Regions from separate parts of the Homo sapiens genome. Here region 1 is linked to region 2. The links come from fine-mapping of genetic effects on gene expression. A gene starts in region 2. The other region holds a variant in brackets. All regions are shown on one strand. Distances are from middle to middle. Region 1 has its middle 20 kb from the start of EZH2. Region 2 holds the start of EZH2 (enhancer of zeste 2 polycomb repressive complex 2 subunit).

Region 1 (12,371 bases), 21 kb before region 2:
TGTTCAGTGATCCCCTAGCTGATGGGGAAAGATTCTCCCTGAAGCACCTAGCAATTCCTTAGTCAGCATGCCTTTGTTAAATGCTTTCTGGGGGTCAGCATTGTGTTGGCTGTTGATGCCTGCAGTCTTGAGAGATGGAGCTGTGAAAACTTCTGTATTCCCCCTCTTTCTTTCTCCTTTCTGAACTGTAGGAGGTGTGGGAGCTCTGAGTCTTGGAGCCATTTGTGTCATGTCTCTGTCTTTAGATATTCTTTTTCCCACTGTGTGGGCCTGAGGAGGCCCCTGGAGGCTGCAGCAGTGAGGCTGGACCATCTTGGTTATCTGGTTCCCTTTCCTCTGACAGGGTAGGTGAGCTTTTTATGAGCTGGAAGGTCTCAGGTGGTGCTAGCACCTGCAAGGACCACCCTCTGGAAGACAGATTCCTGCTACCTGTTTGGGGGAGGATGTTTAGAAGAAAGAAAGGCTGCTTAGAAGGGTGCCAGAAACAGGTGCTTAGAAGAGAGAATGGTGCAGCAACCATTTGGAGAGGGCTGCTTTTGGGTTCTTGCTCTCCTTGTGGGGTGGGGGTGGGGGATTGTGAGGCTGTGGCTTTTTTTTGTTGTTGTTGTTATTTTTGAGCTGGAGTCTCACTCTGTCACCCAGGCTGGAGTGCAGTGGCATGATTTCGGCTCACTGCAACCTCCACCTTCCAGGTTCATGCAATTCTCCTGCCTTAGCCTCCTGAGTAGCTGGGATTACAGGTGCCTGCCACCCCGCCCGGCTAAATTTTGTATTTTTAGTAGAGACGGGGTTTCACCATGTTGGCCAGGCTGGCCTTGAACTCCTGACCTCAGGTGATCCGCCTGCCTCGGCCTCCCAAAGTGCTGGGATTACAGGTGTGAGCCACAGTGCCCAGCCGGGGCAGTGGCTTTCATATTGTACATGTTCAAGCCCTTGAAGACCTTTGGTGGCATCAGGGACCACCCAAAGGGAGGAGTGAGTTAAGAAGGGGGGGAAACTTTGGACCCCTTATTTAATTTTTTTTTAAACAGACTTTATGTTTTTAGAGCCTTTTTAGGTTCACAGCAAAATTCAGTAGAAAGTGGAAGCTTCCCATATACTCCCTGCCCTTTGCCCCACTCCCCCAGCCTCCTACACCATCAACATCTTGCATCAGAGCGGTGCGTTTGTTACGATTGATGAAGATACATCACATGTCATTATCACCCACAGGCCATAGGTTAATTAGGGAATACTCTTGGTTGAGTCATAATAGTAGTTTCACTGCCTCAAAAATCCTCTGGGCTCTGTCCCTGCCTCCTCCCAGATCCTGGCACCTGCTGATCTTTTCACCGTCTCCTTAGTTTTGCCTTTTCCCTCACCGCTTTTCGACCAGAGCTGATCTGTTTTCATGTTGGTCTTTTGTTTAAAAATTCATTCGAAGACTAAATTGTACTACTTAAAAAGAAAAAAAGGAATAAGGATACAAGTTATCAGGCAGTCCTATTCCTTGTTAGCTGTGTGATCCTGGGAAAATCACTTCACCTCTCTGAAAGTCAATATTTCATCCACAGAATGGGAGGAATGATGGCTGTCTCGCATCAATACTGTTAAATATGGAAAGTATCCGACAAGCACCTGGCGAATAGCAGAGGCTCAACAAGGACAGGTTTCCTCCCTCTGCTCATCCTGCTCCTTCTCCCATTCAGTCACTGAGTTCAGCCCGTTTCGTCTTTAGAGTTTAGAATTTCTCTCTTCTCATCCTCATCACAACTCCTTTCTGGTTCAGGCTTGATCTTATTCAGAGTGTCTACAAACAATGATTATCCCACACATCTGTGCTTAACGCTCACCTTTAATGCAACAAAATGTGTAGATATTGCTTGGCAATTTGGAGATGAGTGTAGGTAGATTCCTAGGGGTTGGCCGGTGAGTTCTGCTGGCTGTTCCCGAGTGCCGCTTTCTGGGGTCTTTTCCTTCACTCTGACAAACTGCCAGGGGACTTGGGTGGTTCCTGTAAGGGGCTTTCATGGTGGTGGCAGGCTATCCATTTAGAATTCCACTTCCCAAATTCCTTACACACCAAGCTATTACACTAGCTAGCACTAATCTCACAAGATACAGTGTAACAGCAAACAACCACACCACACACACATAAGACCTTAGCAGGGTAGCTTCCTGGATGGTGTCTCCTTAAATTCTCACCTTTGGGTGTCTTTTGAATAAGCCCTTCCAAATAAAAGGCCCTCATTCTGTCTCTCACTGGGACTGCTCTGTCATCTCCGGAGTGGTCTCTAGCCCTGCCCCCAATCCGGGATTTGAGAAATAGGTCCTAAGATGAGCAGAATTGGGTAACTGACTGGAAGCTGGAGATGAAAGAAAATGTGAGGGTGAGTCCAGGAAATTGTGGCAGTGTCACCAAGTAGAGCAGGGAACACAGGAGGACCCGCAGCCCACAGGTGTGGACCCCGGGCAGGCTGCCGGATATGTGCATATAAAGCTGAGTGAGTCCTTTGCGGGAGGCTTGTTTTGATCCACCTGATTTTCCCAGCCTACCTCTTTGGAGACATCTGTTTCCTCTTATTTCCAAGGTCTGGGGAGGGAGCAAATCATTCTCACCCCATGTGCTGTCTACAAGACAATTCTTGTATGGCTTGGCATTTAGTGTGATGCCTTATGCTTTGTGGTGCGATACATCTAGTGTGTAGAAACGTGAAATACTGGTTTATCCTTTAGCTGAACTGACTAGTTGTGTTTTGATACTGTGTATTCATGCATATTACAAATACACACACATGGCTGGGCGTGGTGGCTTATGCCTGTAATCCCAGCACTTTGGGAGGCCGAGGCAGGTGGATGGCTTGAGGTCAGGAGTTCAAGACCAGCCTGATCAATATGGCAAAATCCCTTCTCTACTAAAAATACAAAACTTAGCCAGGCATGGTGGTGCACGCCTATAGTCCCAGCTACTCAGGAGGCTGAGGCAGGAGACTCATTTGAACCCGGGAGGCTGAGGTTGCAGTGAGCCAAGATGGTGCCATTGTACTCCAGCCTGGGTGACAGAGCGAGACTGTCTCAAAAAAAAAAAGGAAAAAAAAAAAAAAGAGAGAGAAACAGAGGGTGAGAAAGAAAGAATGCTAAAGCCAGTGTGGTAAAATGTTAACAATGGGGAATCTGGGTGAAGGATATATGGGAATTCTTTGTACTATTTTGCCAACTTTTTTTCTCAGTCTATAACTTTTTCAAAATTGAAAAGTAAAACAAAAATTAGTTTAATATATGCTATAGGACCCTTTAAGGACTGAAACGGGGTGGTGGAGGTGGGGTGTGTGTGTGTGTGTGTGTGTTGGTGTTGGAAGTGGGTAGGGAGCACCAAAAACTTGATGGCATCAGCTGTAAGGAAACTGGTGATCACCCCACATAATCGCGGATAGTCACCTCAGCTGCTCAGTTGTTTTGAGAAACAATCTTTTTGCTTTTTCTAGATGCAAAGAGGTATAATTGAATAAGTCACAGCAGAAAATGAAAAGATGATCTGTTTTCTGTTACAGCGATTGTGAAATGCACATAGATCTCAGCCCAGAAGGAATCAATTTGACTAACGTAGATGTAAAATCAAAATTAATAGAACTATAATCCCTTTGGTGATCTGCATTTGTTCTGAATGATCTTATCAAACGTTCCTGGTGAGACAGGACACAATATGATTGCTAAGACACCAGGAGTGGGGAGGGCAATAAGTCAGATGGAGAGAAGATACTAGATGTCATGTGCTTCCCTTGCTTAGAGAAAATGGATGAAGTGAGATTGAGATACCAACTGTAGAGCCTGGACTGCCGAACCAGGATCCTGACCTTAGGAGCCCCTTCGTGATGTGAATACACCGGCTCAGACTCAGATGTGTCCAGAGCATGTGGTCCTGATTTGTATCAGGGCACTGGAGGCTTATGAATGATCCCCAGACTCAAAGGAAACAGAGCACCCTTAATTACTTAAGTCTTGTTAAAGTCCAGTACCATCTGCTCCAACAGGTAGGTTTCACCAGGAAGACAGTCAGGGAGGGTTGCTTATGCAACAAGTGTTTATTAAGTGCCTTCTATGTATAAGGCACAGTGCAGAACGATGGAAATAAAATGGAGAATAGGATCTATACCATCGGAGGACTCATAGGCTGGAGGCTTCTGACCAAGGAATTCCCATACAACCCAGTTTCTCCACGTGTAAAAGGGGAGACCTACCCCCCTCACATGCTAAACATGAGATTAAATGAACTGAGGCCAGGTGCGGTGGCTCAGGCCTGTGATCCCAGCACTTTGGGAGGCTGAGGTGGCCGGATCACCTGAGGTCAGGAGTTTGAGACCAGTATGGCCAACATGGTGAAACCCTGTCTTTACTAAAAATATAAAAAGTAGCCAGGCGTGGTGGCACATGCCTGTAGTCCCAGCTACTCAGGAGGCTGAGGCCCGAGAATTGCTTGAACCTGGGAGGCGGAGGTTGTAGTGAGCAGAGATTGCGCCACTGCACTCCAGCCTTGGCAACAGAGTGAGATGCCATCTCAAAAAAAATAAATGAATTAAAAAAAAAAGAATTGATATATGTAGAGCAAGCAGTAAACACTTGGCATATATCCAGTGCTCAGTAGTTGCTGGTTCCCCCTCTGTCTCTTCTCCAGGGTTCTCTCCTACCTGAGCCGTCTTTGGTTACTCTGAATCTTGCCCACTCTGGTCTGTCCCGTCAGGATAGTTCCACGGACCTAACTCTTGACCTTCTGCTGTTGTTTTAACCCAGATACCCTAAACAACGCCTGAACTTGTCCTTACAGTGCCTCCCACCCTTGTACTAAGACCTCTCACTATAGGGCTGACATTTATTTGGTTAGGAAAGCCATCTGGCTTTAAAATGTGCATATATCTGGGCTGCAACAGCGATTTCAATTTGTAGATTTCACCATGGTTGTTCTGTGAAGCAGTGTTCAGGTTTATTAATTTTATATGCATTGGAGTTTTTGAAATTGTTAGTTCGTATGTATGGAAATAAATTTTCATGAAACGAACCACAAGTTCTGTTATATAGGACGTCTTTAATACCACAGTAAAATAGCTTTTAGATTACTAGAATGTCAGGTTTCTGCTAAAAATTTGTGTCACAAAAGGGAAAAAAGAAAGCATGGATGAAATACAAAAAGAAAAAATAGATGTGAAGTTACTGTAGTTTTGATTATGTTTAGAGGGCAATTTTTACGGTTTTCCCAGGGACCCAGACCTTTCTCCATCCTACGAAGAAGGCCTGTAAAGGTTGGGGTGATTTATCTCAATTCCACTGGTGCTCAGGAGCAACCTAGGCCAGCTGGAGTCGAGCTAGAGGCTGAGCCAGAAGGAAATAAGAGGCCAAAGTAAGGGCTGCAATTGCAGGCAGCCTCCAACAAGCACCTGGTTAGGTAACTGGGCTCAGACGTGGAGGAAACAGGATCTCACAGCCTCCGGGTTGAAACCTTAGCCCAGACC[G/C]GCCCAAGATGGAACCCAGCTGAGGCTCTGCTTGCTAATGAGCCCTGCCTGCTCTGTGGACCAAGGGTGGAGGAATATTGATGTTTCAGCTTGATGGTTTTCACTGAAATCACATCAATGGCTGTCTGCCTGAGAAAAGGCAGTTTAGGGTGCTCTTTTCTCCTTGGAGTTAATTTTCCCATCTGCCCCAGGCCAGAAAGCCACGGGAGATATTTCATAGCTGCTTACAGAATGATTCAGGTCTTCACAAAATCAAAACTATTAATAGTACAAAGTACAGAATTCAGCAGAAAGCAAGAAAACGAGCCATGGAGAATGTCTGTTGTTAGAGAAGCAATGTGAAGAGTTGAACCAGAAGCTTAGATATTTAAAAAAGCACAAAGTTGCACGTGATACTGCTTTACTGGGACTGACAAGGAAATAAAATGGAAAAGCAAATTATCCTACTCCAGTCAAAAAAAAAATTATTTTCACATATTTCCCACAATTTTTGTTCTACTCCCTTTATATACTTTTCTCTCTGCCTAAGAATGAATTTTGAATCATCATTCTGCTGCCAGAAATTTGTCTCACATTACCAAGTGTGTTTGCAAAGTAAGGATACTGATTTCTGCAAATCACGCCTGAGAATCAATGTCATTATTTCATAATCAAAGTATGTACACTATCTGTTTAGCAGATATAATTAGAGACATTGGCAATCTCTGATTTTACTTGTCAGAATATGGAGTTTGGACTTATTTCAGAACTTTGCATTTTCAAAATAGTTTATACTTCTAAAAGTAATCTTACCTTATTTAATAACTTAATATTATCTGCTGCCCTGCCCCCATTTGATAACCCAAGTGAGATTATCACTAGATTGTCTCAGATTATAAATTCTTTGTCAGCAGGGATTAGACCCCTGCAGTTTCCTGTATATAATATTTTGCAATTAGATGTTTGATAGTGCTTTGAAATAGGAACTCAGTTTTTAACTTTTGGTCTTTTTATTTTCAACATAATGAACCATGAAATAGTGAAAATTCCATTTTTCTTGTTATACGATTTTAGGCATTGTCATTTTTTCCAGTTACAAGCTCAGTTACAGAGAGAAGGAATTATACTACCTCTTACAGAATCAGCAACCAACAGACTCACAACACAACCAACTGGAAAAAGCAGAACAACCCAGGAGCTGTATACTATGGAAGACCAGGTTGAAAGACTGGGCTGACTTTAGGTCGGCCTTCTTCATGTAGTCACCCACAGATGGGTTTTAGGAGCTCTGGACATCCCCCAAAATTCCTTGTTGGAAAATTTGGGGGTGAATTAGTGTCTGTTGCTTACTCAGATGCTCAAAGAAGCTCAGGTATCCCCACTTCCCTCAAAAAGGTAAAATCACAATTCTGTGTTTTCTGTTTTCCTGCTTCCATTAGATTGAGAAGGCAATGTGTTTAAGGGCAGCTAAGGCAACGTGCAGATGATGCTTGGGTACCTTAGAGTCATTTCCTCTCTTCTTTCTGCTAACAGAACCCTGACTTTGCTCAGGACAACAGTGTGCCCAGCCTGAGGAGATCATTCTTGATATTTGAAATCATGACAAGCTCATTCTCTTTCCTTGTAAATATCCCAGCTGCCCTTTAAGCTAGGACATGTGTTCCATGGACATGTGTTGCCTTTCTTGCCAATAAGATGCAGAGAAGTCTTCAGGGAGGCTTCTGGAGAGCTTCTGCTTTCTTGATACATGATAAAGTAGGGGCTGACTCAGTCCCTTCCCCTTCTTTCTGCCTTGAATTTGCATGTGATACTTGGAACTACAGCAGCCACCTTGCAACCATGAGTACACGCATGAGGATGATAAGCCAATATGCAAAATGAGAAGACAGAAAGAGCCTGAGTCTAATGAGTTTTTATGAAGCTGGCAGACCAATCCTGATATGGACTTTCTCTGAGTTTCTTGTTAAGTAAAGAGTAAACCATCCTTATGACTTAAGCTATAGTTAGTAGAGGGTTTCTGCTACTTGCAGTCAAATGTGGGCCTCAGTGGATACAGTGAATAATCTTTTATGGCTTAAAATACAATAAATTGATTCTGTTAAAAAGTACCACTAGATGATGTTTTTCAATGAATTCTGCGAACTATATTATTTTGCTAGTCTTCTAACTACGCCTGCAGGAAGTGCAAGGGAAAAATCAGGAGTGAATAGAGTGATCACCTGCGTTTAAATGGTATTCCTCCTGATATAAAAAAGAGTGGATTTTATCTTATTTTTGGTCTGTAATACTCAATGAATGGAAATAGTTATATAGGCAGAGACTACACCTCTACTTCCAACTGACATGGACATTGTTTCTATGCTTTTCTGCTCCAAAGATTTCTTTTTCTTTTTCTTTTTTTTTAAACTTTAATTTTAGATTCAGGGGTATAGGTGCAGGTTTGTTACATAGGTAAACTCGTGTCATAGGGGTTTCTGGTACAGATTATTTTATCACTCAGGTTAGTAACCAAACAAGCATTTATAACTTGATAAAATTCTTGTACTATTTCATCATATTGCCTGCATACAGGTATAAAAGAGCAACTCATTTATTAAGGTTTAAATTTTTTGGCCGGGCACGGTGGCTCACACCTGTAATCCCAGCACTTTTGGGGGTGAAGGTGGGTGGATCACTTGAGGTCAGGAGTTCTAGTCCAGCCTGGCCAACATGGTGGAACCCCATCTCTACCAAAAATACGAAAATTAGCCAGGCGTAGCAGTGCACGCCTATAGTCCCAGCTACTTGGGAGGCTAAGTCAGGAGAATCGCTTGAACCTGGGAGGCAGAGGTTGCAGCGAGCCGAGATCGTGCCATTGCACTCCTGCCTGGGCAACAGGGCAAGACTCTGTTTCAAAAAATAAAAATAAATAAATAAATAAATGTTTTTGTTTGCTCTCTATATATATGTTTTTTGAGACAGAGTCTCGCTCTGTTGCCCAGGCTGGAGTGCGGTGGCATGACCTCGGCTCACTGCAAGCTCCACCTCCAGGGTTCATGCCATTCTCCTGCCTCAGCCTCCCGAGTAGCTGGGACTACAGGCGCCCACCACCATGCCCGGCTAATTTTTTGTATTTTTAGTAGAGACGGGGTTTCATCGTGTTAGCCAGGGTGGTCTCAAGCTCCTGACCTTGTGATCTGCCCACCTCGGCCTCCCAAAGTGCTGGGATTACAGGTGTGAGCCACTGTGCTCAGCCAAAAAATTTAAACCTATGCCCAGCTGTTTGCATTATATTTTTTATGTGTTGTAAAAAAGCTGGCTGGGCATGGAGGCTCACATCTGTAATCCCAGCAGTTTGGGAGGCTGAGGTGGGAGGATCGTTTTAGGCCAGGAGTTTGAGACCAGCCTGGGCAACATAATGAGACCCTGTCTCTATGAGAAAAACAAAAGAAAAAAAAGAAAAAAAGCCTATTTGGACAAGTAAACCACTTGGAATTTTAAAATCAACTTCTATTGTATTCAAAGATAAACCATTTAAAAATATCAAGGAAGGAAAAAGCCACTGAATTAAGTTAGCATATTCTCCTCCAATAAATTTAATTATATGTATTTCTATAAATTTACATACTACTTCATATGCATTTATGTATATATTTGTGGATTATTACTTTCATTTTTTAGAGACTGCGGTCTTGCTATGTTGCCTAGGCTGGTCTCAAACTCCTGACCTCAAATGATCCTCCTGCCTCAGCCTCCCAATGTGCTGGGATTACAGACATGAGTGACTGTGGCCAGCCAGATTATTACTTTTTTTTAAAAACAGCTTTATCTACAGTATACCAAAGGTGACAGGGTTGGATATTTATCAGTTAGTACTGCTGTGTAACAAACCCCTCCAAAACTTAGTTTAAACAGCAAAGGTGTTATCACTTGTGACTGCAGGTCAGTTGGTCTAGCCTGGGCTTGACTGGGCATGACTCCACACTGAAGGTTGGTTCCAGGCCTGTCTCACTCTTCTTGGACCAGCAGGCTGGCTGGGACTTGTTTTTCTTATGGCAATGGCAGGGCTGTGAGAGGGTAAGAGGACAAGCCAAATGTGCAGATGCATTTCAAGCCTTTGCTTGTATCACGTCCCCTGACATGCCATTGGCTAAACTGAGTCATAGGGCCAAGCCCAGCATTCATAGTGTGAGGAAATAGACCTCACTGCCGGGCGGGAGGGACTGCAAAGTTACATGGCCATGTTCACAGGAAGATCCAAGGGACAACAGGTGAAAACTAGAATGCAGTGTGAGGGAAGAAACACTGGTAACAAAGGCCAGCTTCTGACATTGTTCCAGCTCAGTTTTTAGAAACTGACAGAGCTAAGAGTTAAAGAAACTATCTTAGGAAAGAGAGATGCCTGGTACTCCTGCCACAGAAGATAAAATTCTTCATACTGAACATGTTTAGGCAATGCTTAGAAGAATTACCTTGACAATGCTTTTAGAAAGATCACCATTCACTACTATTGTACTCATGTCCCTTTCTAGAGTGAGCCTAGTATTTCTATGTAATAAAGAAAATTGTTTTGTCATTGTTTTGCCTTTCTGTTATGCCAGAATTGTACAGATATTGTTTTTACAAAATCCATAATACATATATACATTTTTTTGGTGGAGTTTTTTGCTCTTGTTGCCCAGGCTGGAGTGCAATGGTGCGATATCGGCTCACCGTAACCTCGGACTCCCAGGTTCAAGCAATTCTCCTGCCTCAACCTCCCGAGTAGCTGGGATTACAGGCATGCACCACTGTGCCTGGCTAATTTTGTATTTTTAGCAGAGATGGGGTTTTTCCATGTTGGTCAGGCTGGTCTCGAACTCCTGACCTAAGGTGATCCACTCGCCTCAGCCTCCCAAAGCGCTGGGATTACAGGCGTGAGCCACTGCGCCCGGCCATATGTTAATGACCAATTTTTTTTTTTTTTGAGATGGAGTCTCGCTCTGTCACCCAAGCTGGAGTGCAGTGGCGCAGTCTCGGCTCACTACAACCTCTGCCTCCCGGGTTCAAGTGATTATCCTGCCTCAGGCTCCTGAGTAGCTGGGACTACAGGTGCCTGCCACCACACCTGGCTAATTTTTTGTGTTTTTAGTAGAGACGGGGTTTCACCATGTTAGCCAGGATTGTCTTCATCTCCTGACCTCAGGTGATCCGCCTGCATCGGCCTCCCAGAGTGCTGGGATTACAGGCGTGAGCCACTGTGCTCGGCCATGACCAATATTTTTAACAATTAGGAGCCAAAATAACAGCCATGTTCTTCACATGCAGTATTTCATATTAATCTTCACAGCAACTCTGTGAAGTAGGAATTATGTATTATTATGTTTTATATTATTTCTGTTTTACAGATGAATTGAATCTTAGGTTAAGTAACCCGCTAAAGATCACACTTAACAAACAGGATTTGAACATAGTTCATCTTGGGTGGGCTGGGTGGCTCATGCTTGTAAACCCAGCACTTTGGAGGCCCAGGCAGGAGGACTGCTTGACCCCAGGAGTTTGAGGCCAGCCTGGGCAACATAGCAAGACCTCACCTTTCTTTAAAAAAAAAAAAAAAAAGAAGATGAATTTTGATCATTTCATTTAGGATCAGGACCCACAAGCTTAACAGGACACACACTGCTTCTTGTATCCCCTATGTGAAAACAGTGCCCATGCTTTTGTTGTTCTAGTGCAATTTGGCACATGAAACCACAACCAAACTGAGACCATGAAATATACATGCTGTAAAATAAAATAAGTTACGCATCTCTGTTTCAGCATTTTGGGTGTCATATCACCCCTGTAGTCCCAGCTATTTGGGAGGCTGAGGTGGAAGGATCGCTTGAGCCCAGGAGTTTCAGGCTGCAGTGAGTTATGATCACATCACTGCACTCCAGCATGGGTGAGAGGGCCAGACCCTGCCTCTTAAAAAAACGAACAAACAAAAAATAAATCATTATTACAACTCTTTTTCAGTGTTGGAATACAGAAAATAGCCCATCTAGTTTGCTTTTGAGCACTCTATCCTGCAGATCTTGGTTGATTGTTGGAAGAATGCATTTTATGGAACACATGTTAATTTTCTAAGGTTCTGAGCTCTCTTATTTACCAGGGCCAGCAATATCACTGGCCTCATTGGCTTCTCAAACCAGTCTGGCCTGGGCTAGCCACGCCCACGGTGGACTAGCGATCTGAACTCTTGTTCCCTGTTTTGGCAGGTCCCAGCCCCAGGACCCCTTTTCCCGTTGCTCAGGACCACGGAGGAGTGTGTAGGCAGCTGAGTCCCCACTGCTGCTTTAAAATGTCTATTTTTTCCTCTCTCATTCTTGATCATGTTCTGCCTACTTTTCTGAAACCTGGTGTTAACTCAACACACAGAGAAACATTTGAAGAAACTGCTCACAACTCAAACCCAGAATTAACCCTTTAGCCTTCAGCCCCACCCTTTGTTTGCTCATGGATCTGAACAAAGTAATCACTGGGTTTTTAAATGTTTTCAAGAGTCATGAATTATTGTCTTAATTGTTTTAAGCTATAAAAATTAATTCTTTTAAAAAGGGTATTCTTAAAAATCCTTTTGGTACGAATGGTAACAGTAGAACAAACACATCCATTTAACCTAAAAGAGTTTTCATGTAATAGCAAGTCAACAATTATTCATTCAACTAGCATGTGATTTTTTCTTCTTTAACAAGAGTGGTACGGTTTTGTGGGTGCTTTGGGGATGGCTAATAAACATGAGAGGACATACCTGGTTGATCCTGACAGTAGCAAAAGAAGAAAATAATAAATTTTAAAAAGAAATAGGAGGATTGTCAAGGCCTCTGCTGGGGTGGGTAGGGGAGGTGGAATTCAAATTTTTGAGTAACTGACAACGGCACAAGCACTGACCACTCAGAATGGACACTG
Region 2 (12,371 bases):
GCCAGGGAATTTCTAGATAGTCTAAAGGCTTTTATCTATTTTAGTCTACTTATTTTGTTTGATCAAATTTCTTTCTTAAACGTCTTAAAATGGTAACATCTTGATCAGTTTAGCTGAAACTCTGTTTGGGAAAGTGAGTAATACAATATGGCTGGAACTTAGGGTGGTGGAGCTATGAGATAAAGCTGAAATAGCAGCTTGTTACAGCCAGAGGAAGGGATACAGGAGCTGGGAGGTCACGATCTCCTCATTATGTGATTTTGGGGATAACATCCCATTCTTTTTGTGGCCATATCCTATTAGAAGCAAGTCAATAGGTCTAGCCCACAACAAGGGAGAAGATTACACAAGGCAGTGAATACCAGGAGGTGGTATTAATAATACGGGAGCATTGGCCAGGTATGTTGGTTCACGCCTGTAATCCCAGCACTTTGGGAGGCCGAGGCGGGCAGATCACCTGAGGTCAGGAGTTCGAGACCAGCCTGGCCAACATGGTGAAACCCCATCTCTACTAAAAGTACAAAAATTAGCCAAGCATGGTGGCGCGCACCTGTAATCCCCGCTACTCGGGAGGCTGAGGCAGAACCGCTTGAGCCCAGGAGATGGAGGGTGCAGTGAGCCAAGATTGTGCCACCGTACTCCAGCCTGGCCAACAGAGCGAGACTCTCTCTCAAAAAAACAAAAAAATAAAAATAAAAACAAAGCCAAAAAGGAGCATTTTAGAGGCTGGCTACCACACCTTCCTTGGGTTTTCTAGAGGTGACTCTTTCAAGCTGGTTCCGAAAAGGATCAGGTTAATTTCAATCACAACCAAAAATTATGTTATCTTTATGAAGGTTTCTCGACATGCCACACATCTCCTGACCCCAGCCTGGGGTGTGTTCCAGGCTGCAGTATAATGCCACTCTGGCTCTTCATGAGAGCTCATCCCTTCTCAGGCTTCTTGTATTGAGAACTGATACTTCTTACATGCAATCTTTCTTGTATCCTATATCCAATCTGTCAGGAAATTCTGTTGCTTATACCTTCAAAATATATCCAGACTCCACTTCCCACCAGCTCACTGCTACCACTTTGGTCTGAGCCACAATCATTTCTTGCCTGGCTTATTACAACGGACTCATCACTGTCCTCTCTGATTTGGCCCCGGCTCCGCTTCAGGATCCTTTCAACACAGGAGCTAGAATGATCTTGTTTAAATGATCAAATCGCCTTTCCACTCAAAATCCTCTCATTTTATAAAAGATAAAGACCTAACTATGGTCCACAAGGAGCTGAAAAATCTGCTTGTGCCGCCTCCATTCTTCAACATCATTTCCCACTTTTCTTCCCCTTCCTGTGCCAGAGCACATCAGCCACGCTTCTGCCTCAGGCCCAGGCACTGACTGGCCCTTCTCTCTGCCTAGAACAGTCTTCTCTCAGTAAATGCTCCCTCAGCTCCTTCAAGTTTTTCTTCATATGTCACCTTCAAAATGAGGGCTTCCTTAACCAAGTGGCTTTTAAAAAATTATTTTATTCCCAGGCTGGAGTGCTGTGGTCCCATCTCACTGCAACCTCCGCCTCCCAGCCTCAAGCGATCCTCCCACCTCAGCCTCCAGAGTAGCTGGGACTATAGGCACCATGACCGGCTAAGTTTGGTATTTTTGGAAGAGATGAGGTTTCGCTATGTTGCTCAGGCTGATCTAGAACTTGTGAACTCAAGTAATCCTCCCATCTCGGTCCCCAAAGTGCTGGGATTACAGGCGTGAACCACCACATCCAGCCCCAAGCTGTTTTAAAATTACAGCAATTGCACCCAATACTCCCCTCTTCCCATGCCTTATTTTTATCACCACCTCATGTTCGGTATAATCATCATTCACAGAGTAAGCACTCCATAAATGAGTGCTGTATAATATGTGGGAAGTAAATCCCATTTTTGGGGTTGAAAGGGAGGTTCTGAGAAGTGAAGGGATGGAAAGGGAAGTTTGCTGGCTGACAGCCTTAACTTTGCACTCCATCTTCTCCAGTTCCCCCAGGACAACCCTGAGAATCAGCTATGTGCCGGGCACGCTAGGCCCTGGGGTTACAACTTTGGGGCTTAACTGTTTTTCGTTTCATCTTTTAACTTTAATACCAAATCTTTGTTGTTCACACAGAACAATCTTTACAGAAATGAAAAAGCTTGGTGACCCTCAACCTCCATATCCACCTTTGTGTTTAGCCTGGCTTTCTGCTTCATCTAGGCCCCTTGAGTAACTGGCATTCACACACACACTTGCTTATATGTTTACTATTCATTACACACATTAAAAATTTTTTTTCCCATTGAAATAGTCATAGAGGTCTGTTAAATAGGCCTGTATATTTTCTTGCTTTCCTGGGTTAGACATCTTCAGACAGTTTTTCTTTTGGTAGCAAAAGCAAAATACTTCTTCCCCCTCCTAACTTTGCTGTATTTGTCATATACGGAAAGGAGTCGCGAGACATCATGAACCCCACATACAATGAAGTCCTTCTGGAATATTTTCAAATTATCCCCTTTTTCTGCCATTACTGTGGCCTAAACTACCTTGCTTAAATGGACAATGTCATCATTGAATCAAGAAAATACTGTGATCCACTGGCATCCCTTTTCACCTTAGCCTTCATATCATATTTATATTAAATGTCTGTTATATATATTTAGTATCATCCCACCTAGCTCTTTAATGGTTAGAGTCCAACCTACACACTCTTCCCAGTGGGAATGGCTGCTCTATAAAGTTCTTTGTACGTGTTTTTTTTTTTTCCTAACATTCACTTGGTGCCAATAATTATATTTTGTCCAATCACTTTTTTTTTTTTTTAAAGAGATAGGGTCTCACTCTGTTGCTCAGGCTGGAGCACAGTGATGTGATCATAGCTCACGGTAACCTTGGGATCCTGAGCTCAAGCAGACCCCTCACCTCAGCCTCAGGGGCAGGTGGGACCATAGGTACTTCTGTGCCACCACACTCAGTTATTTTTTAAATTTCTTGTAGAGATAGGGTCTTGCTATGTTGCCCAGGCTGGTCTCGGAGCTTCCCACCTCGACTTCTGAAAGTACTGGGGTTACAGGTGTGAACCACTAAGTCTGGCCTGGAATATCTTGATCCATCCATTCCTTGATTCTAAACGTCTAGCAATTTACATGACATTTCACACCATGTTGCAGAGTTATATACTGCTTTGATTTGCTTTATGGTAGTCTCTAATTTCGTTGATCTTCCTCTTAAAAATGCCTTGTTTTAATATTTAGTATTACAGGACTGATAAGTTCAGTAATTTGATAAGCAACTTAGGGATAAGTAGTTAATTTCTGAGGTTTAAATTGCTGGTTTTAAAAAATTGTAAATTGGTGGCCTAGACAGATGCATTTTATCTTGGAGAATGAATGTATTCGTGACTGGAAGTAATGGCAGCTATAATTCGTTACGTTATTTTACAGTCACATCTCAGCTGCATAACCTATTTACTTTTTGCAGTGTTATCACTGATTCACAAGACAATTTTGCTTTTATCTGGGCACATGATTGCTTGTTTCTCCTTATCTTTTAGCTTCCCTTTATATATACTTTCCAACATTGGAGTGATTCAGAATATATGTGAGGAATGGGATGGTGATTTAGGAAAGGCGGGAAAATTATGGGCTAAATCATCTGATGAAAAATTCTGGCCCAGCGCAGTGGCTCACGCCTGTAATCCCAGCACTTTGGGAGGCCGAGACGGGCGGATCACAAAGTCAGGAGATCGAGACCATCCTGGCTAACACGGTGAAACCCCGTCTCTACTAAAAACACAAAAAATTAGTCGGGTGTGGTGGCAGGCACCTGTGGTCCCCAGCTACTCGGGAGGCTGAGGCAGGAGAATGGTGTGAACCCGGGAGGCGGGGCTTGCAGTGAGCTGAGATGGTGCCACTGCACTCCAGCCTGGGCGACAGTGTGAGACTCCGTTTCTTAAAAAAAAAAAAAAAAAAAAAATTCTGGCTAGTTATTAAATTCATTAAAAATATTTCTTCAGATTTTTACCCCAACAGTTCATAGGTGACCTTTTTTCAGTTTCCAGTATGAACTCTCAATATGGAATCTCAGTTTACATGACAATGGTATTTTACCCCATAGATACATCCTAGTAAAAATAAATTCGGAATACTCTTAACTGCATTGCCACATGAAGCAATAGGAGAGACTGTATCCTAAGCAGAATCCCTCTAATTCCTCTGGGTTGAGGTAGCTTGACCCCCCATAACCAAGATCAATTTTTTTTTTTTTTTTGAGATGGAGTCTCGCTCTGTCGCCCAGGCTGGAGTGCAGTGGCGTGATCTCGGCTCACTGCAAGCTCCGCCTCCCGGGTTCACGCCATTCTCCTGCCTCAGCCTCCCGAGTAGCTGGGACTACAGGCGCCCGCCACCACGCCCGGCTAATTTTTTGTATTTTTAGTAGAGACGGGGTTTCACCGTTATTAGCCAGGATGGTCTCGATCTCCTGACCTTATGATCCGCCCGCCTCGGCCTCCCAAAGTGCTGGGATTACAGGCGTGAGCCACCGCGCCTTGCAAATATCCTCACACTTTGCAGAGGCGGCAAGTGAACAGTGCTCATCTTGATAAAGGATTTTTAACACTGACACGTGCTTAGAACTACGAACAGTGGAAGGGTCTGAAATGGCAGCAATGTCGCCCTTTCACAGGTTTCTAGGGCGATAAGCACTGCAAGCTCGGCCAGCCAAAGTCCAGCGGTGGGGGAAAAAACGGCCAAGGCAGCAGCAGACATAATCAAACAGGGCCCGGGTCGGCGGCGGTGGCTCACGCCTGTAATCCCAGCACTTTGGGAGGCCGAGGCGGGCGGATCACCAGAAGTCGGGAGTTCGAGACCAGCCTGACCAAGACCCGTCTCTACTAAAAATAGAAAATTAGCCGGGCGTGGTGGCGCATGCCTGTAATCCAGCTACTCGGGAGGCTGAGGCATGAGAATCGCTTGAACCCGGAAGGCGGAGGTTGCGGTGAGTCGAGATCGCGCCATTGCACTCCAGCCTGGACAACCAGAGCGAAACTCCGTCTCAGGAGAAAAAAAAAAAAGTAGTAACGGGTCCGGCGGCAGCGCGCGGGCCGGGCGAGCGTCTCCCGGCAAACGCGGCGCCACAGCTGAGCCGACCTCCGGGGCCCGCGCCCTCCCCTCCCCGGGCACCACTAGGAGCGGCCAGCCCGGGCCTCGGCTCCGCGCGCGGGGAAACGAGCGCGGCGGTTAAAACCGTTACCACCCCCGAGTTTTGAACTGGTTCAAACTTGGCTTCCAGCACCCGCCCCGCCCCTCCCCCGCCCGGGAACTCTGCGGCGCCGGTTCCCGCCAAGAGCCGCCGGCGCTTCGTCCCGCCCTTCGGCCGGTTCCCGCCACCTATCCTCCCCGCCTCCCGTCCGCGGCGGGCTCCGGGCCCCCGCGATGTCTCCCGGTCCCCGCGTGCCTGCACACCGCCTTCCTGAGAGGCGCCGTGTGTTCAGCGAAAGAACAAAGAGACGGCGGCGGCGCTTCCACACGGCCAGTGGCGTCCCTTACAGCGAACCCCGCCGCCGCCCGCGCGCGCACGCGCTGCCAGTGCCCGCCCGCCCACGAGCCCTGAGCGCACTCTGCGTGGGGCTGGCTCGGCGCCTCCGAGCCCGGCGGGCCCTGTGATTGGACGGGCGCCCGCCTCGCGTCCCGCCAATCGGGGCGGCGCTTGATTGGGCTGGGGGGGCCAAATAAAAGCGATGGCGATTGGGCTGCCGCGTTTGGCGCTCGGTCCGGTCGCGTCCGACACCCGGTGGGACTCAGAAGGCAGTGGAGCCCCGGCGGCGGCGGCGGCGGCGCGCGGGGGCGACGCGCGGGAACAACGCGAGTCGGCGCGCGGGACGAAGGTAACGCGCCGCTGCGGGCGGCCCGGCCGGCGGGGCTCCGGGAGTGCGAACCGGGCGGCGGCGGCGGCGCCAGGACCTCCCCGCCACTGCTGTGCCGGTCCCGGGTATCGCCGAGCGGGGCTCACCGGGGCGCCGCGTTTGTAGGCGTGCGGGGGGTGGAGGGTGAGGGGAGAGCCCCCCTCCCCGGAAGGAGCTGTGAGCTTCGGGCTGGCCCGCGGGACCCTGCGAGTGAGGCAGCGCACACCCCTGGAGCTGCGGGGCGGGGGGCGTGTGGGGGGCTCCTTTCCCGGTGCTTGTCCTGGCCGGGGCGCCGGGGCCGGGGTCGGGGCGTTCCGGTGCCCGGTCCAGGGTGGCAGCTCGAGCCTCAAGTCTCCTTTGTGTGGCGCGGCCGCGGCGGGAGCGCCCGGGTGGGACGGGACAGACACAAGTTGGTGGGACCCAGCCGCCGAGTCCGCACTCAGACAAAGGACGGACTGTGTCTCCGGAGGGCTCGGCGCGAGGGGAAGGGGCATGACACCCGGGCCCGCCGGCGGGCGGGAGAGGGGCGTGGGGAGGCGCGGGCCGCTGCCGGGGTGGGCAGGGCTCGGCCCTCGCCTCGCGCACGCCCCCGGTCCCGGGCGCGCCGACCCCGGGCTGGGGCCGCGGCGCTCGCGGGACGACGTTCGCGGCGGGGAACTCGGAGTAGCTTCGCCTCTGACGTTTCCCCACGACGCACCCCGAAATCCCCCTGAGCTCCGGCGGTCGCGGGCTGCCCTCGCCGCCTGGTCTGGCTTTATGCTAAGTTTGAGGGAAGAGTCGAGCTGCTCTGCTCTCTATTGATTGTGTTTCTGGAGGGCGTCCTGTTGAATTCCCACTTCATTGTGTACATCCCCTTCCGTTCCCCCCAAAAATCTGTGCCACAGGGTTACTTTTTGAAAGCGGGAGGAATCGAGAAGCACGATCTTTTGGAAAACTTGGTGAACGCCTAGTGAGTTGCCACTTTCTAAAGAATCGTAATCCTTAAACATTACAAGCTGTTTTGGCCAACTTGTGTGATACATCTGAGAATGGCGACAGGTGCTAACGAAATCAACTGTCATTCAGCCAGATTATTCCCCAAATCCCGACGGGTTGAATGAGGATGAGGTGGTAGAAGTAGGTGATCAAAATAGAATGGCTATGACAAATGTGTGTTTAGATTATACGGTTAGCAGTTTCTTATTAATTGGTCTCGTTTTCTGTGAACAATAGCTTTGGTGATTCAGAAAAGACTGCATGGAGAAATGTTTGTTGCCTAAGAAATTTAACGTGTGCTGTCCACAGTTAAACTTCCTTTATCACACAGGATCTGTAACATTTAAATTCATTTGGAAATAAAAATGTGTCTTTGCTATTTACTTAAAGGCTTGCTTTTTAGGGTTCAAGCAAGTTATTATTAGTTTAATTTTGTGGCGTTTTGATGTCATCATAAAACAGCATTTAATAAACCTTTGAAAAACACGAATGCTGTCACAATTGAATGTAGTTTATACTTTTAGGGGTTTTGGAGTTTATTTTCTATTACTCTTCATAAGCATTAGCAACTAATTCATGTTTAGGAATACTGTACAAGTGTGTAATCCTAACTTGTTTATTTGTAATTTTATTTGCAGGAAAACAAGTATTTAAGATATATTTTAATTTTCTATTCATGGTCTCTAAAGTTAGGAATAGGTAGGATTCTAGTCATAGATATAAAGCGTCTTGTTCTCTCTTTTCGGAGGTGTGTTGGGTGATGTAATATTTAAGGTTTCCCGGAAACAGGAACACTGCATCTTAAATTCTCGTTTTTGTGGAAAGTGAATATATTCCAAGAAAACAAGTTAGAAAAACATAGGCGTTCTTCTGGTTGCACTGTCCTATATGATAAAGATCTAATGTGCATCTGCTAACTTAAGGTTTCATAAAAATGGAGACAAATAAATGCAATATAAATTTATTACATATATTTTGGAGAGTGTTGACACCACTGTACGGGCATTCCAGGTGCTGGTCTAAGTGTTGAGACATTATAACAAAAAAGTAACGTTTATATTAGTTACTATTAATTCTGTATTTAAAAAATCCTATTAATAATCTTGTCCATTATGAGATAAGGTAGTTATGCAGATTTTTGGCAGAAATTCGGATATTTTAGGATACATATGTGTGTGTGTGTGTGTGTGTGTGTGTGCGCGCGCGTGTGTGTGTGTGTATATGTTTTTTTTTTTTTGAGACAGAGCCTTGCTCTGTCGTCCAGGCTGGAGTGCAGTGGCTGGATCTGGGCTCACTACAATCTCTGCCTCCCGGGTTTAAGGAATTCCCCTGCCTCAGCCTCCCGAGTAGCTGGAACTACAGGCACGCACCACGACACCCGGCTAATTTTTGTATTTTTAGCAGAGACAGGGTTTCACCATGTTGGCCAGGCTGGTCTCGAACTCCTGACCTGAAGTGATGTACCCGCCTCCGCCTCCCAAAATGCTGATCCAGACGTGAGCCACCACGCCCAGCCTAGGATAAAAATTTCTAACTTTGCCCTTGAGTGTTCTCTGTATTTGATAATTACTATTCTTTGTACTTGCCATGAGATATTTTGAAAAACATCTCTTTGGGGAATTGGTTTAAAAATTCATATTAAATTATTTTCTGGTACAATTGAGAATGTATTTAGTCAGTTTAAGTAGCAGTGACTTAAAACACACTTGTTGATCTAGTGTAGTTAGAAAAAGTTCTGATACTTTGATACCTAGCTTTGCCTTGCACAAATACATTTAAGTGAATATCTTTATGTTGGCCATTTAAAAATTTTAGGCAAATTTCTCCAAGTCATACTGGAATTTTCCCAGGATACCTTCCTTCTTTTGAGGTAGTGTGCTCAAGGATTCTGAATTTATTTCAGTATTACCCTTTACATGAGCAGTGATTGAGAAAGTTGATCTGCTTTTTAAAAACCAACAAGGACAAATCCTCCAATATAATGTATTCTGTGGTTAATTAGCAATGATTTATGGATTAGCCTTGAAGTCTTTATATCAGTATAGATGACAAATTTTCTGTAAATCATGATAGATTCTATATGAGTAGGTGAAATCTTCGGGGGAGAGCATAAGTGAACAGCAGCAATTCATTAAATTCAGAGAAAGGTTCATGGTCAGATGATACATACTTTACCTTCTGGAGGTCTTCCCTGAATTCCCACTCTTGTGTTCCCACAGGGTTTTATCATATTTTATTGTAGCATGACTCAATTGTATTGTAATCACTTGTTTATGCATCCCTCTCTTCCCTACAGTCAAAGTGCCTCCTGGTAGAGGCTCTGTCTTATTTTTTTCTTTGTATACCTAGTACCTACGTTGGTATTTGCTAGAGAATAGGGGTTTTAAATATAGTTGAATGAATTAAGGAAATATGAAAAATGTAGGGAAATAATTTGACAAAGGAACTTGCAAAGTGAACAGGATATGTTAGTATTCATGTGAGGAACTTTGAAATGTGTTTTTCTCCCTCTTTAATAGGGAATGATTACAAAGAAAAATAGTTGTCAAGGTGAACAAGTTCCAAGTTTTTCCTAGTTATAATCTGTAGTACTAAACATTAGATATCCTTTAGATGCAACTATTACACTCGGACAACTGGAGAGAACTTGATGAATCATCTGGATATTTAGTAATAGTATTTGCTTAATTTGATTTAATGTTGATATTGATGATCTCTTTGCAAAAATATAAGGAAGGGAAAGGGCGAGAGAGGGTAGTAGATCTTTTAACTGAAAAGCTGTTTTGTTATAATTCATGAGTTCTTTATTGGAGTAAATTGAGGTAGGTTTTGGAGCTAAAACTGAAGGATGTAGCGACAGTGTAATTGGATCATTTATTGGGATGCTTTTCATCATTCTTTTAAAATGATTTAAATACAGATTAGCAAATTTAGTGATACCTCAAAAGTTACAGCTGGTAAATTTCTAAGATAGTTGCACCATTCCATATCTTGCCACTGTTCCACTACTTGGTATAAAAATATGACAAATTTGTGTTTAGATTATGTGGTTAGCAGTTTCTTAATAATTGGTCTTGTTTTCCATTAACAATAGCAAGACAGAACAAGATCATAGCTCACTGCATCCTTAAACTCCTGGGCTCAAGGGATCCTCCTGTCTCAGCCTCCTGAGTAACTGGTATTACCAGTGCACACCATTGTGGTGACTTATTTAATTTTTTAATTTTTTGTAGAGATGGGATCCTGCTTTGTTGCCCACGTTGATCTCAAACTCCTGGCTCCAGGCAATCCTCCTGCCTTGGCCTCTTAAAGTACAGGGATGACAGGCTGAGCCATTGTGTTTGACCCAGATACTTTTTTTTTTTGAGACGGAGTCTCGAAAGTGATTCTTGTGCCTCAGCCTCCTGAGTAGCTGGGACTACAAGCGTGCGCCACCACGCTCGGCTAATTTATTTATTTATTATTTATTATTTATTTTTTTGAGATGCAGTGTCACTCTGTCACCTAGACTGGAGTGCAGTGGCACCATCTTGGCTCACTGCAACCTCCACCTCCTGGGTTCAAATGATTCTCCTGCCTCACCTCTCAAGTAGTTGGGATTACAGGCATGCACCACCAGGCCTGGCTAATTTTTGTATTTTTAGTAGTGATGGGATTTCACCATGTTGGCCAGGCTGGTCTCGAACTCCCGACCTCAGGTGATCCACCTGCCCTGGCCTCCCAAAGTACTAGGATTACAGGCGTCAGTCACTGTGCCCAGCCTCCGATAATTTTTATATTTTAGTAGAAACTGGGTTTCACTGTGTTGGCCAGGCTGGTCTGGAACTCCTGACCTCAAGTGATTGACCTGCCTCGTCCTCCCAAAGTGGTGGGATTATAGGTGTGAGCCACCACACCCTGCTGTGTTGTTTTTGTTTTTGTTTTTTGTTTTTGTTTTTGTTTTTTGATATGGAGTCTCACACTTGTTGCCCAGGCTGGAGTGCAGTGGCGTGATCTCGGCTCACTGCAACCTCTGCCTCCTGGGTTCAAGCGATTCTCCTACCTCAGCCTCCCGAGTAGCTGGGATTACGGGAACGCACCACCACACCTGGCTAATTTTTGTATTTTTAGTTGAGATGGGGTTTCACCACGTTGGCCAAGCTAGTCTCGAACTGCTGACCTCAGATGATCCGCCTGCCTCGGCCTCCCAAAGTGCTGGGATTACAGGCGTGAGCTACTGCGCACGCCTGGCCTGGATACTTTTTAAACATTTTTAAATTAAAAATTTTTTTTTGGAGACAGGGTCTTGTTGTCACCCAGGCTGGAGTGCAGATGCGTGATCTCAGTTCACTGCAACCTCTGCCTCCTGGGCTCAAGCGATCCTTCCATCTCAGCCTCCCAAGTAGCTGGGACTACAAGTGCATGCCACCACGCCTGGCTAATTTTTGTATTTTTTGTAGAGACAGGGTTTTGCCATGTTGCCCAGGCTGGTCTTGAACTCCTGAACTCAAGAGATCCACCTACCTCAGCCTCCCAAAGTGCTGGGATTATAGGTGTGACCCACTGCACCCAGCTTTTGTTTTTAATATTTGTAAGAACCACCTTGTGTCTGCCAACAGGCGAATTAACAAAATGTGGTATATAAACCAATGAAAACATAAAAGGAGTGAAATAAAGACGTAAAAGGAGTGAAATTTCAAAATAAAAGTAAAAAGATTTCAAAATAATTCAGACATAAAAGGAGTGAAATTCTGATACATGGATGGAGCTGGAGAATATTATGCTTAGTGAAATAAGCCAGATACAACCTTTTGTACAAAAATACAAAATTGTATGATCTCATTTATATGAGGTAGTTAGAAGAGGCAACTCTATGGAGACAGAAAGTAGAATAGAGGTTACCAGGGCTGTGAGGGGAGAGGTGAATGGGGAGTTTAATGAATACAGAGTTTCTGTTTGGAATGGTGAAAAAATTCTGGAGATGGATAATAGTGATGGTTGAACAATATTTTGAATATATTTAATGCCACAGAATTGTACACTTAAAAATGGTTAAAATGGTAAATTTTACACGATATGTATCTGTATCTATATATATCTCTCTCTATATCTATATATCTTACCAGAATACAAAATTTAATAACACACTCCGAAAACCTTTACAGATGAGGAAACTGAAGAAAACTGTCTACAGGGGAGGAGTTAAGAATTTGCCCAGGATTATTCAGCTGGGAATTTGCATTCGGGATCCAAACTTAGTTCTGTTTCACTACATATTATCTACTCCATATTATCTGTTCTGTGTTATCTGCTGGCTTTCTGGGTGATTAAAGATATGTCAGCTCCGAGAAGAATGAGTTTATTTGAATCATTCAGAAAGTTACATTTAAAAGTAGGTAATTGTAGTTTGATGGAAGGTACAGTGTGAAACCCTAGACAGACTAAAGGTTAACTTTGAGGATTTCTTTCTCAGCCAGAGTGGTAATAGTATGCATTTGAGAGGGGAGGAG

What was found. PIP is the estimated chance that this variant, and not a neighbour inherited with it, causes the effect.
Region 1: its variant is fine-mapped to the expression of EZH2 in nasal epithelium (TOPMed, PIP above 0.99).

What each region holds. Positions count from the first base shown.
Region 1 is chr7:148,898,563-148,910,933 of GRCh38, reverse strand. No RefSeq gene overlaps it. Among named protein-coding and RNA genes, the nearest start is that of EZH2, 20 kb to the right of the region's middle. The variant G/C (reference allele first, on the strand shown) is at 5,484.
Region 2 is chr7:148,877,682-148,890,052 of GRCh38, reverse strand. EZH2 (enhancer of zeste 2 polycomb repressive complex 2 subunit) reads left to right here and starts at 5,762. Exons shown (of 20, transcript NM_004456.5): 1 at 5,762-5,889. It overlaps LOC124901767 (a long non-coding RNA gene), which reads right to left and starts at 4,864. Exons shown (of 2, transcript XR_007060579.1): 1 at 4,570-4,864; 2 at 2,257-3,696. RefSeq lists silencers at 5,129-5,358, 5,479-5,848, 6,009-6,598 and an enhancer at 5,817-6,508.